2 linked regions of the Homo sapiens genome follow. The protein of the gene in region 1 purifies or fractionates together with the protein of each later gene. This does not show direct contact. Each region holds a gene or a part of one and is shown on either strand. Other genes may lie near its edges.

What was found. The genes of interacting proteins can lie anywhere in the genome.
Region 2: the proteins of SULT1A2 (region 1) and TRAPPC9 purify together in Homo sapiens (affinity purification with mass spectrometry; 3 studies listed by BioGRID and IntAct, with this or other methods). This does not show direct contact.

What each region holds. Positions count from the first base shown.
Region 1 is NC_000016.10:28,594,049-28,601,279, reverse strand, and holds the start of SULT1A2 (sulfotransferase 1A2), read left to right. Parts: upstream 1-4,229; 5' UTR 4,230-4,283; exon of another isoform or gene 4,284-5,146; intron 5,147-5,314; exon of another isoform or gene 5,315-5,345; 5' UTR 5,346-5,349; coding exon 5,350-5,497; intron 5,498-5,604; coding exon 5,605-5,730; coding exon of another isoform or gene 5,731-5,815; coding exon 5,816-5,913; intron 5,914-7,231. UniProt on the Homo sapiens protein: Sulfotransferase that utilizes 3'-phospho-5'-adenylyl sulfate (PAPS) as sulfonate donor to catalyze the sulfate conjugation of catecholamines, phenolic drugs and neurotransmitters. Is also responsible for the sulfonation and activation of minoxidil.
Region 2 is NC_000008.11:139,727,212-139,733,756, reverse strand, and holds the end of TRAPPC9 (trafficking protein particle complex subunit 9), read left to right. Parts: intron 1-1,554; coding exon 1,555-1,778; intron 1,779-2,528; coding exon 2,529-2,696; 3' UTR 2,697-6,032; downstream 6,033-6,545. UniProt on the Homo sapiens protein: Functions as an activator of NF-kappa-B through increased phosphorylation of the IKK complex. May function in neuronal cells differentiation. May play a role in vesicular transport from endoplasmic reticulum to Golgi.

The DNA of each region.
Region 1 (7,231 bases):
TGGAACTCCGGGGAGGAGCTGGCTGGGGCGGAGGTGATGATCCAGGATGCGGGCCAGCGTAGGGGTCTTGGTGGGCATGCTGGGGTCGGATGGAGCGCAGGAGGGAGAGGAGGGGGGACAGGTGGGTACCTGGGCTGGAGGCGCGGCCTGAGGTGGGCAGGTTCAGGGGGCGTGACTTCATTTAGGGGCAGGGCCTGGGGCTAGGCTGAAGCCGGCAGTGAGGACCCCGCTCTCGGGTGGAATTGGAGGGGACCCGCGGTTGGGCGCGGCAGGGCTCACAGGGACACCCCCGTTCTCCTCCCCAGGGAGAAAGTGCTCGTCGTGCACGGCTTCCCGCCCGCCGTGGCAACCCTTCGGGTAAGGAAGGAGACCAGGCGGCGGCAGGCGGGCAAGGGCTTGGGGTCCGCCCCCCTGCCTGGAGCCGCCCTAACTCCTCCGTATCCTGCCGCTGTTGGAGTGGGCCTGGAACCCCCTCCATAGGCGCGCCTCCTACTCCCGCTGCACCCCGACCTCCGCCGGGACCTCTATGCGCCGCGCCGCACGGGCGATGGCCTTCGGGCCTCCCCGGCCCCAGGGCACCGCGCAGGTCCCTTTGCTGGCACCAAGCCCGAGCCTGAGCCGGACCCGGGGCCCAAGAGGCCTGTGCGCCCTGCGAGCCCTTGAGCTCCAGGGGAGGTCCGCCCCAGGCAGGGCGGCTCATCCCCCAGACCACTTCGGATCCAGCTGTTTGTTGAGGAGCCAGGAAACGCCCTGACACTTTTGCGGCCCTGTCCCCGTCTCTAAGATGGGGATGATAGTATTTCTGGCCATTCCTGAGCACAGCAGGACCTGCCTTTTCCCTTTGACTGGAAGGTTCTTCTCTACACCTATCTTGATAACCTGCCACCTCCACAGGGAGGTCTTCTCTATCTCCCGATTTAAAATTGCAGCTCTGAGAAGCCGGGCATGGTGGCATATGCCTGTAGTCCCAGCTACGGGGGGAGGCTGAGGTGGGAGGATCGCTTGGTCCCAGGAGTTGGAGGCTGCAGTGAGCTCTGATCGCTCCACTGCACTATAGCCTGGGCAAAAGAGCAAGAAACTGTCTCTAAAAATATAAAATAAAATTGCACCTCTTGTGTACTTCCCCGTCTGCTTCTTTACCTGAATACTTACTATCTCACCGGCTAGGTGCTTTATGACTCTCGTTAGTCTCTCCCACCCCAACCTTTGCACTACATTGCCCGAGGGCAGCTCTTGTCACTGCTGTAGAACAAAGTCCTGCACAGAGACGATAGCCAAGAAATAGTTAATAAAATAATGGAAAACGGGTGCCTTCTACTGAGCACCCGCTAATAGTGAGTGAGTAGAGGACTTGCCCTGGGGACATTCAGTGACCTGCTGGGTGTTGCTGAGCTGTGAGGAAGTTCAGGTCTGGCTGCAGTGGTGAGGCTGTGACTCAATCAATCACTGCTGATGCTCCCAGGACCTGCACCAGCTTAGTCCCAGGGGCAAGGATTTTAAACCCCCACCTCCATTTCCTCATCTGTAAGATGCAAATAACAGTCACCTCTGCCTCACGGGATGGAGCTGTGTAATGCCCGGAACAGTGCCTGCTGCATAGAGGGGTTGCTGCCAGCTGCCTCTCCCTCCTTGTCTCTTACCTGCCTGCTGCCTGGGACAGGATGAAGCGGGGCCCTTGTGTTGCCCCAACCCTGGCTGTTGGCTAAGAGCCCACGTGATCTGCCTGTGAGAGGAGTTCCTTCCGGAAGAACCAGGGCAGCTTCTGCCCCTAGAGGGCCAATGCCCTAGCTGAGTGCAGTCCCCCGGCCCCAGCCTGGTCCAGCTTTGGGAAGAGGGTGCCCAGTTGTGCAATCCAGGCCGGGGCAGCCGTGTCCTGATCTTGGTATTCAGGGCTGAGCCTGGAGGGGGCTTGTGATGCCTGACTCTGTCTCTCTCTCTGGCCCCATGCCTTGGTAGCTGTGAGGCGTCACTGCTTTGGGTGACCTGATCTGGCTGTGATGGATGAGCACGGGGGAAATAGTGGAAGACTCGGAATTAGAAGACGTGAGTGGGCTTTGGCCCCAGCCTCCCTACCCCACTCCCTGTCCTGGGCTGCCTGTGACCAACCTTGTTTCTGCAGGCACACTGGATAGCCCTGCTGGAGCTCAGTGTCCCTAATCCCCTCCAGATACTGGTGGCCTAGGGGAGGTCATCAAAGACCGGTGGGACATCGACCTCAGCCCGTTTCCACGCTTTTTTTTGTTTTGTTTTGTTTTTTTGAGACCGAGTTTCACTCTTGTTGCCCAGGCTGGAGTGCAATGGCGTGATCTTGGCTCACCGCAACCTCCGCCTCCCGGGTTCAAGCGATTCTCCTGCCTCAGCCTCCCAAGTAGCTGGGATTACAGGCGTGTGCCACCAGGCTTGACTAATTTTCTATTTTTAGTAGAGACAAGGTTTCTCCATGTTGGTCAGGCTGGTCTCAAACTCCCGACTTCAGGTGGTCTGCCTGCCTCGGCCTCCCAAAGTGCTGGGATTACAGGAGTGAGCCACCGTGCCAGGCCTTCTCCAGGCTCTTGGCACCTTAGCCAGAAACAATTTAAGGACAAGTGCAAAAGTCATGAACGTAGGCAGATTTCCTGCAGAGTAAAGGGACTCACTGAAGAAGAGGAACGTGGGGGTCCTCAAGAGAGTGTCTCATGCCCTACAAGGTGTGGGGCTGACCTTTATGGGCTTCTTCAACTAAAGAGGGGTATATTCATGAAGATTCCAGGAAAAGGTAAAGATTTCTCAAGACCGTGGTGCCACAATTTACACCCAAATACAGGTGTTCCTGGAGCCGTCTTGGCACTGGTGGGTGTACGGTTTCATATGTTACTGATTGTACAGTGAGATCCTAGGTGAAACCTACATCAAATACAGCGCCATGTTGCTTCTGGTTGGTCGCAGCCAGCTTGGTCCTCATCCTATTTTTCAGGGACTTATTGGCCCTTGGCACATGCAGCTATTTCAAGTTTCCTTCTTCTGGTCATGTGAAACTGCTGCCTGGGATTTTCTGTTGTCTTGCTAGCACTCTATTAATCTCACATTCTCGCCTCTTTTCTGTGCCACCCCCTGCTGGTCCGGCTGGTTTTCACTAGAGTGCAATACAAAGTCTCAGTCAAGAGGGCCTCCTGAAGGTTGCTGAGGGCAGGGGTGGAGCTAGTAGCCGGAGGACCTGCCAGTCATGGGGATTCCTCAGGGGCACAGAGGAGGGAGGAGGGGCCTGTGGCCCTAGCAGGGGAGCAGCCTCTCCTCTGCCTGGAAATCCCATGCCTCAGTTTTCCCCGCTTGCCTCTGAGCTCACGCAACCCTGGGAAGGCTTGGGAGACTCACCTTTACTCAGATGGTTGTTTACCTGTCTCGTGCCCAGCTTGACCCTGGACTTTAAATAGTGAGGACAAAGAACGAGGAGGGTGGGGGGATGCACTCCTTCCACGGGGCCCTGTGGCTTCCAAGCCTCAACCTCCTCTGGCCTCTGTCTGTGGAGCCTCCTTCAAACCCATGGAAAGAAAAGTACCTGCCAGGGGCTGTGGTTCTTCTAGGATCTTCTATCGATGTTCTGTGAGGTCCCCAGGGAGCCATGAAGCTGGGGCTGGCTCCCAGGGCAATGGGACTGCAGTGTCCTTGTTCTTTCTTGTTCTATGGATCCATGCTCTGCTCCACCCCTGCCCCTTCACTCTGCCCACACGCATCACTCCAGACTGGCCTTGTGGTCAGAGCCTGGAGTGCATGGGCTGCTGGAGGCCTGTGGGTTGCACTGGGCCAGGACCCCTGGCACCTTCAAGACTGGCCTGGAGCCAGCAGGTAGGTGACCTTTCCAGGGCCTGCCTATCCCATCTTTCTCCTCCAATCCCTCCCCTCTCTTGCCTGGGTCAATTAGAGAAAGCTTGTCTTTTGGAGTTCAGGGGCAGGTCAGGAGCCCAGTGACAGCTCAAAAAAAAAAACCCACAAAAACAAACCCACCATTGGGCCCTTTCCCCTTTCATTCTTCTGTTTTCTACACACCAAACCCAGTCGTGGCTTTGGAGATCACTTTAAGCTTGTCTCCAGCTGGCAAACTAAGGAGGGTAATAGAGAAGCTCCCCCACCCCCAACCCTACCCCTTCCTTCCGGAAGCAAATCTAAGTCCAGCCCCGGCTCCAGATCCCTCCCACACTGACCTAAGAAACCCTCAGCACAGACAACACCCCTGCATTCCCCACACAACACCCACACTCAGCCACTGCGGGCGAGGAGGGCACAAGGCCAGGTTCCCAAGAGCTCAGGTGAGTGACACACCGGAATGGCCCAGGACGCCCTCACCCTGCTCAGCTTGTGGCTCCAACATTCCAGAAGCCGAGGCCTCTGCTATCCCTGCCCTCTCCCCATGGATATCCCATTTCAGACAACCCCGGCCGGCCTGAATCCCCCTCCCTTCCTTTTTTTTTTTTCCGGGGAGGCCAGGTCTTGCTGTCACCGAGGCTGGAGTGCTGTGGGATCCTGGCCACTGCAGCCTTGAATTCCTGGGCTCAAGTGATTCTCCTGCCTCAGTAGCTAGGACTACAGACCCTCACCATCCTGCCTGGATAGTTTTAAAAAATATTTTTAAAAGATTTTTAGAGATGGGGTCTTCCAATGCTGCCCAGATTGGTCTCCAAATTCTGGCCTCAGCCTCCCTAGGGTCTGGGATTACAGGTGGGAGCCACCCTGCCCAGGATCCTCCTTTTGCTGAGTCATCACAGTTTTGCTCATTCCCACATCAGGCTCTGGCCCCCAATACCAGCTCAGTTGCTCAATGGGCTGTTTGTCCTGGAGCCCAGATGGACTGTGGCCGGGCAAGTGGATCACAGGCCTGGCCAGCCTAGGAGTTGCCACATGTGAGGGGCCGAGGGGCTCAAGGAGGGGAACATCGGGGAGAGGAGCCTACTGGGTGGAGGCTGGGGGTCCCAGCAGGAAATGGTGAGACAAAGGGCGCTGGCTGGCAGGAAGACAGCACAGGAAGGTCCTAGAGGTTCCTCAGTGCAGCTGGACTCTCCTGGAGACCTTCACACACCCTGACATCTGGGCCCCGCGCCACGAGGGTGCTTTCACTGGTCTGCACCATGGCCCAGGCCCTGGGATTTTGAACAGCTCCGCAGGTGAATGAAAGGTGAGGCCAGGCTGGGGAACCACCACATTAGAGCCCGACCTGGTTTTCAGCCCCAGCCCCGCCACTGACTGGCCTTGTGAGTGCGGGCAAGTCACTCAGCCTCCCTAGGCCTCAGTGACTTCCCTGAAAGCAAGAATTCCACTTTCTTGCTGTTGTGATGGTGGTAAGGGAACGGGCCTGGCTCTGGCCCCTGACGCAGGAACATGGAGCTGATCCAGGACATCTCTCGCCCGCCACTGGAGTACGTGAAGGGGGTCCCGCTCATCAAGTACTTTGCAGAGGCACTGGGGCCCCTGCAGAGCTTCCAGGCCCGGCCTGATGACCTGCTCATCAGCACCTACCCCAAGTCCGGTAGGTGAGGAGGGCCACCCACCCTCTCCCAGGTGGCAGTCCCCACCTTGGCCAGCGAGGTCATGCTCACCTCAGCCTGCTCACCTCCCATCTCCCTCCCTCTCCAGGCACCACCTGGGTGAGCCAGATTCTGGACATGATCTACCAGGGCGGTGACCTGGAAAAGTGTCACCGAGCTCCCATCTTCATGCGGGTGCCCTTCCTTGAGTTCAAAGTCCCAGGGATTCCCTCAGGTGTGTGTGTCCTGGGTGCAAGGGGAGTGGAGGAAGACAGGGCTGGGGCTTCAGCTCACCAGACCTTCCCTGACCCACTGCTCAGGGATGGAGACTCTGAAAAACACACCAGCCCCACGACTCCTGAAGACACACCTGCCCCTGGCTCTGCTCCCCCAGACTCTGTTGGATCAGAAGGTCAAGGTGAGACTGGGCACAGTGGTTCACACCCGCAATCTCAGTACTTTGGGAGGCTGAGGTGGGAAGATCCCTTGAAGCCAGAAGTTCCAGATAAGTCTCTTCCAAAAAAAAAACTTAGCTGTGCATAGTGGTGTGTGCCTGTAATACCAGCTACTCAGGAGGCTGAGGTGGGAGGATCATCTGAGCCTAGGAGTTTAAGGCTACAGTGAGCTATGATCACACCAGTGCACTCCAGGCTGGGTGACAGAGAAACACTGTCTCAAAAAACGATGAATAGAAAGAGTGTCCCACCAGTGCGGTGGCTCACACCTGTAATTCCAGCACTTGAAGAGGCTGAGGCAGGTGGATCACCTGAGACTAGGAGTTTGAGATCAGCCTGGCCAACATGGCAAAACCCCATCTCTACTAAAAATACAAAAAAATTAGCCGGGCATGGTGGCAGGCATCTGTAATCCCAGCTACTTGGGAGGCTGAAGCAGGAGAATTGCTTGAAGCTGGGAGGCAGAGGTTGTAGTCAGCCGAGACCTCACCATTGCACTGCAGCCTGGGAAACAAGAGCAAAACTCTGTCTCAAAAAAAAAAAAAAAAAAAAAAAAAAAGCGGCAGGTGGCAGGGGGCTGGGCCTGTTGTGGCTCACGCCTGTAATACCAGCACTTTCGGAGGTCGAGGTGGGCAGATCACCCAAGGTTAGGAGTTTGAGATCAGCCTGGCCAACATGGAGAAACCCCGTCTCTACTAAAAATACAAAAATTAGCCAGGCGTTGGGGCAGGCGCCAGTAATCCCAGCTACTCGGGAGGCTGAGGCAGGAGAATAGCTTGCACCTGGGAGGCGGTGGTTGCAGTGAGCCGAGATTGTGCCACTGCACTCCAGCCTGGGAGACACAACGAGACATTGTTTCAAACAAAACAAATAAATATTTTAAAAGGTTTGCCACCTGGGTGGCTCACCGCTGTAATGCCAGCATTTTGGGAGGCCAAGATGGGTGGACCGCTTGAGCTCAGGAGTTCCAGACCAGCCCAGGAAACATGGGGAGACTCCATCTCTATAAAAGATGCAAATAATCAGCAGGGCATGGTGGCATAGCGCTATAGTCCCAGCTACTCAAAAGTCTAAGGTTGGAGGATTGCTTGAGCCTGGGAGGTCAACGTTGCAGTGAGCTATTCTCACTCCAGTGCACTCCAACCTGGGCAACAGGAAAAAAGAAAGCCCAAGGTCTTTTTTCTCTTTTCTCTTTTTTTTGAGACCTAGAGTCCCCCCCCCCAAAAAAAAAAAAAAACCACAACAAAAAGAAAAAAGCAAAGGTCCAGGTGTGGGGCATGT
Region 2 (6,545 bases), on another chromosome or scaffold:
ACCAGGCCCGGCCCAGGATGCCCGTGACTGTGTTAAGGGGCAGAAGGGGTGGGAGTGCTCTTGTGGCCCACCTGCTCTCCCTATGCGTGTCACCATCATGTCATCCTTATTCCACCTGCCTGCCTTGATAGCCCACAGCACAGGATCAGCCACGGCAGACCATGGGGCTCAGGCTGGCTCCCAGGGCCACGCAGTTTGTACTTGGATGACATGAAGTCAAATTGCAGGCTGCGGGACCTCCCACTTCCAGGACCTCCACAACAGGGCCACAGCAGGTGGCCTTTGCCCAGCAGGAAGGGCCCCCCACCCCACATCTTAGCCTGCTAGGGCTGCCACAGCGAACGACCACAAACTGGGTACTTGAACAACAGATGTGTGTTCTCAGTTCTGGAGGCAGGAAGGCTGAGACCAAGGTGCTGCAGGACCATGGGAGGTTCTGGGGGCTTATTCTTCCCTCCTTCAGTTCCTAGGGGCTCCAGCCACCCAGGGCTCCTTGGCTCCTGCCCGTATCCTCTAGTCTCAGCCTCTGTCTCTGTCTGTGCTTCCTCCTCTTCTGCCCCATATAAGGACATTGTCACTCACTACAGGGCTCACTCTAATCCAGAATGAGCTCCTATCGGGACCTTTCACTTAATTACATCTTCAAAGACTCCCCTTCCCCAATACGGTCACATTCTCACGTATCTTTTGGGGATCACCATGAAACCTGCCACCCTGATCATCAGCTCGCTTCCCTGAGAGAGGGCACACTCTCTCCGCCCCCACCCCACCCTGACCTCAGCCTCCTTCCTTGCTGCTGCCCAGTTAGGAGGCGTCCTCCTTGTCTGCAAGCTCTTGGGGCATGTAAGCAAGGAAGGGAAGAGGAGATGAATCCATGCTCCTTCGCCCAGGACCAGCTCCCTGCCTGGCAGGGTCCACGGGTCCCAGAACCGTGCCACTTCCCTGAGCACCTGTTCTGTGCTGAGCTGTGTGTCAGGCACCCTGGACAGGCTGACAGAATGAAGAAAACACAGTGCAGCCACTTTATAGGGAGTGCTGGAGCCCACTGTGCATTCCTCCTGGGGAACGAGATCAAGACACCACCTCCTGGGGTGTGTGGTCTTGCAGCCACTGGAGGAGAGGGACCTCGGGCCTGCCTGTGCCCCAAAGCTCACCTGACCCCTGACCTGCGGCACTTTAGGGCCTGTAGGGCCCCTTCCACGCCCTCGCCTCTACGGTGTCAGACTCTCACCTGGACAGGAGTCCCTGACTCACTAGAGAGCTCCTCCCCTTCTAGGTGGGCTGTGGCAGGAGGCCCTCCCAGAGGCCCCTCCATTGGGGTGCAGACCCCTTGAGTCATAGCTCTAGCCACCACACCCGTCTTTGCCAGGTTCCTCTTCCGGAGACCAGGAACTGGTCACACATCTGTGTCCCCAGTGTCCAGCCTGGCAGGGAGTGGGTGGCAGCCTTGAAGAGTGAAGGAGGGAAGAAATGAATGAATCAGCGAGTGGGTGGGGTAGGCCGGCTGGGCCGTGCAGGCCAGCCCAGCCCCCGACAGTCTCGTGTCCCTTACAGATGTGCTGGTGGACGGACAGCCATGTGACCGCGAGGCTGTGGCGGCCTGCCAGGTGGGCGACCCCGTGCGCCTGGAGGTGCGGCTGACCAACCGGAGCCCGCGCAGCGTAGGGCCCTTCGCCCTCACTGTGGTCCCCTTCCAGGACCACCAGAACGGCGTGCACAACTACGACCTGCACGACACCGTCTCCTTCGTGGGCTCCAGCACCTTCTACCTCGACGCGGTGCGTGGTGGTGTGCAAGGCGGTCTGGGAGCCTCTGGCCATGTGGTCATCATCCCCCCTTCCCTGGGTGGTGGGCTTTGGGGTCAGCATATGTCCAGCAGACGATAGCAGCAGGGGTTCTGTGGTCACGTGTGCACACTGAGTCTGAGTCTGCCCCATTCACTGCAGGAACTTAGACAAGCTCACCTGTCTCTCAGTCCTGGACAGTGAGGCCCTCAGGGTTGGTGAAGCAGGAAAATGTGCAGGGAATGGGAGCTGTGCCCAGGACAGGGGGCTGCTCCATGATTGGACCCTGCTGTGGCATCACTGTGATGTCACTGTCACCCATCCCGTGCCTGCCGCTCCTTCCACGGAAAGGCTCCAGCCCTACGCCCTCAGCCCCCACCTCCCACCTCCTACCTCTCAAGCTGCCTCTCAGCACCTCACTGTCAGGCCCCAGCACAGGCTAACATTCCATTCCCCTCTGCCCCAACCTCTCCCTCACTCCCTCCCACACTCCTGACCCTCCCACACTCCTGACCCCCTGAGCCCCCAAACAATTCAGGAATGGGAATATTGGCAGCTCCTTTCCAAGATGAAAACTGGCTCGGAGAGGCGCAGTGACCTGCTGGAGGGGGCACTGGAGCCAGGCCTGGGCGGCCCTCGCTTCCCCCATAACACCTATGTCCAGGCAGATTCCCAGGATTCCTGGTGGCTTTGGGTGGCCCCTGCTGCTGACCAGACTGATGTGTCTTTCTCCTCCCTGCTCAGGTGCAGCCGTCCGGCCAGTCGGCCTGCCTCGGGGCCCTCCTCTTCCTCTACACGGGAGACTTCTTCCTCCACATCCGGTTCCACGAGGACAGCACCAGCAAGGAGCTGCCACCCTCTTGGTTCTGCCTGCCCAGTGTGCACGTGTGTGCCCTGGAGGCGCAGGCCTGAGCCCGCCTACTTCCGTCCCTCTTTCTGCAGGGCCAGAGGTGACCCTGCCTGGCCTCCCACACCCCCTGCAATGAGCAAGGCCTTCACTGCAGCCCCATCTCCTCCTCCTCCCCCAGACCCCTCCCAGCCCTCTCCTCCTGTTCCTCCTGTAGCATCTTTGCTGGGCTACGCAGAAGCCCCGGACATGGCAGCCCCACCCCATGCCACGCCCCTTCCTACACTGTTCCCTGGACCATACACAGGCTGAAGCAGAGGAAATCCCAAAGCGGGTGCCCATCCAGCCCAGGTCCCAGGATCCCTGCACCCATTTCTGTGACCTGGGGCCCCAGCCGTGCTGTGCTGCTCATCCCAGCAGAGGGACCTCCCTCGTCCAGCGACTTCCCTTTGGCCATAGAAAGAAATGGTGAGCATGAGACTGGGCACAGCCTGAGGGCGTGGGCAGCTTCCCACCCTCCCTGGGCCTTGGAATCCCCCAAGGCTGGTTTTCTTCCTGGAGACCCCCATGGGCAACTTGGCAGGAGAGATGGTGCCGTAGGAGGTCGTGGATGGTTGATGCCAAGAGAGGCCCTCCACCCGTGGTGGGCAAATGTCCAGGCCTGGGCTGGCAGCCCAGGGCTGTTTCTGGGTGCTCCCTGGCCCCAGGGTGGCGTCTGGTTACCATGGCTGTGTGTGTCCATGTCTGCAAGCAGTTCTTCAATAAATGGCCTGCCTCCCCCTCCCTGCCTCCCTGCATCTGCTAGCCCAGTGCAGTCCGGGGCCCCCACCCAGCCCGTCAGCCCCCACCTCAGGTGGCTGGCTTCCCAGCAGAAGCCGGACCCAGGAAGGGACGGGTTCTGAGTTAGAGATCTCACATAAGCAAACGCTGAGACAGGAATCTGGTCACCAGCAGCTTGTCTGGGAGGTGGAAGGAGGCCTGCAGGGGAGGGAGATCACCAGTGAAGGAGTGTGACTGGGCCCGAGCTGCCGCCACAGTGGGCAGCTGGCCCTGCGTTCCTCAGGGAGGACCGGAGAGAGAAAGCACACGGCTCACATCTCCCTTGAGGGCCAGAGCTGGGGTGTGTCTACACTACCCACAAGAGTCCTGTTCTGGGGGCAGGCTTCTGGCTGTGTTGACCCTTAGCTCCCCAGGTCCCAGGGAGGATAAACAGCCCTTGGTCCCCAGCAGATACCAGGCTCGTCAGGTGCCCGTTGGGCACTGAAACTCCCATGGAGTATTGGGGGACAGAGAGCGGGGCTTCCTAAAGGCCAGTTGGCCAAACAGGCAGAGCCAGGAAGTGGCTGCCCTGGCCTCCCATGGGGCAGAGTCATGTTGGCATCAGGAGGCCTGCGGGGCTGAGGGAACTTCCTGAGGACCTGAAGTCCCAGGCCCAAACCTCCCTCGCTGGGAGCAAGGTCACCCTGTGGCCTCCGGCCTAAGGAACAAATTTTTTGTTCCATCTGTGGCCTCCTGTTGTCGCTCAGTGAATGATGGGAGCACACTGTGATGTGGTGTGGGCTGGGGGCATGTGGGGGCGGGTGTCCAGTGGCCCTCAGTTCCTGGAGCTCATTCAGCATCTGCTCGAGGCTCCCCAGGGAAGGCAGCCCCAGAAGGTCTGGCTGCAGTAGGGGGTGGAGACCCCAGGGCGGTCTCTTCAGCCCTTCCGTTCAGGATGCCTCAGCGTAGTTGAGGGCCTGGCCACCTGGGCTGTTTCTGAATGGAACAAACAGCATCCATGTGTGTCAACCTCAACAGAGCCCAAAAATACGCCATTGAATGAAACAACACATTGCAGGATGATGGGCTCAGCCCAACCTCACTTGTGTAGACAATGTCCCCCCAAATTATAAATTTTCTATGCCTCAGAACGTGTCTATAACAACATGTTTAAAAGGTAGAAAGGATACACATCCCCTGTAGAAGAGTGACCTGAACTGGAGTTGCATTTGACATCTGATGTCAGCATGAGGGTGCTGGTCACCGGGGACTTGAGTACGTACTTTCCTTTCAAAAGCACAATAGATCAAGATACAGGTACACACATAGCTACAGATATAGATCCAGCCACAGATCCAGATTAGATATAGATGCATATAGAAGCCTAGAAAAGCCAATATGGAAAACTCTGGCAGTGTTTGATTCTGAGTGGCAAGCATATTGGTGACTGTAATTATTTCTTGCAGTTTTCTATATTTTTTAGTTTCCCAAACTGCAAAAAATACCCACAACAGTTACCAGAGAAAATGCTGGATGCCACAAGAAGGAAGAACCTCAAGGGGCAGGAGGCAAAGTTGTCTTCTTGGAGGAGGGGGTGTTAGAAATAACCCAGGCCTCCTGGAAAATGACCCAAATACAGCCTGGCTCTGCCAGCCCCAGGCCCTTCCCCACCCCCAGGGCACCCTTTCTGTCCCAGTAGAGAAGGTGACCTGGAGTCAGGCCTTGTGTGTGCTCCAAGCGTTTGGAGCTTTACCGTGGGATGTGGGGAGCCAGGGGTGTTGTTTGCTGGCATTTCTGTGGCTGGGTCTTTCTGGCTGTGGAGCTGTGTTTGTGGGCAGTGGCTGAGATGGAGGACCTGGGGCAGGTGTCTCAGTGACAGCGCAGTATCCTCCAGCCTCTTCCAGGGCCCCACGCTACTGGCTACCTGGCAATACAGTCCAGCAGTTGCTGCTTCTCTAGGCCCCTGGTGCATTCAGAAACCTCCTGAAGGCCAGCGGAGGGTAAGCCAGGAACAGATCATGTCCATTGCACTTCACTAGCTGAGCGAGTTGGTTCTGCCCTTCTGATCCTTGGTCCCTCAGGGCCAGGACAGGCCCGGTGACCCCATAATCATGCAGCCGTCATGCTCCGTCATCTGAAATTCACAAGGAAGGCAAGGATTCAAAGGAAGATGTCTGAGATGCTGAACTCCAGCTCAGCCACTTGTCAACTCCTTGACCTTGGACAAGTTACTTAAATTAAGCCTTGATTTTTTTTCATCTGAATAAATAGAGATAAAAATACTTATTTCATGGACACTTTCATATCAGTTTATTTGATTTAACCTCCTAGATTTTTTTTTAGCACATGATAGCAACTTCTTAATAAATACTGGGTCCCTTCTCCTAGCCTTCCCATTGCTGTTCTTTTTAATTCCATCCACATGTCCTGTGCCTGAAATATCCTGTGCCATGTGCCTGAAATTCCATTCTTCTCCTGGAACCCTTAACAGGCCACATTGCTATGCTCCGTTAGTCCCCTGCATGGCTTAATGTATTAGGTAACATGAAGCATGTAAGGAAGAACTTTCTAACACAGGTGCTGAAATGGGACAGGAAATGCTGATGGAGTGAGCTCTTTGTCAATAGAAGTATTCAAGCAAAGTCCGGACCTGTAGATGGTTTCAAAACATGTAAGCATCATTTGGGGCTTCTGAGCCTACCAGCCAAGAAATTGTCAATGATGACTTGTTAAGAGGTATTTCTGATCCCAGTAAGCAGGGAAGAGAGAGAGATGTATGTGACCACATGGCTCTTGGGGCCTCAAGCAATGTCTTAAGACACAATAAATTTTGATCAAAAAAGGCTTTCAACATGAAGGGCTAGAGATCTAGACTAAGGGTCTAGGCTAAGCCTCTTACTGAAAACACATTTGTAAGTGCATCCATGACCCGGCAGGAGAGTCAGAAATATTCACCCCAGTACCTGTGTGTAGGCAAAGTCCTGGGAGGTGAGCTGTGCACTGATGCCAACTTCCACTTTGAGGGGTTTTGCCAAAGCTGGAGTATCAATGTCTTCAGCCTTCCAAAACTGGAGGAAAGATGACAAAGCTCAGGGCCCACTGGCTGGGGAATCGAATAGATGACTGCTCCGCATCAATTTGAGAGCCTAAAGATT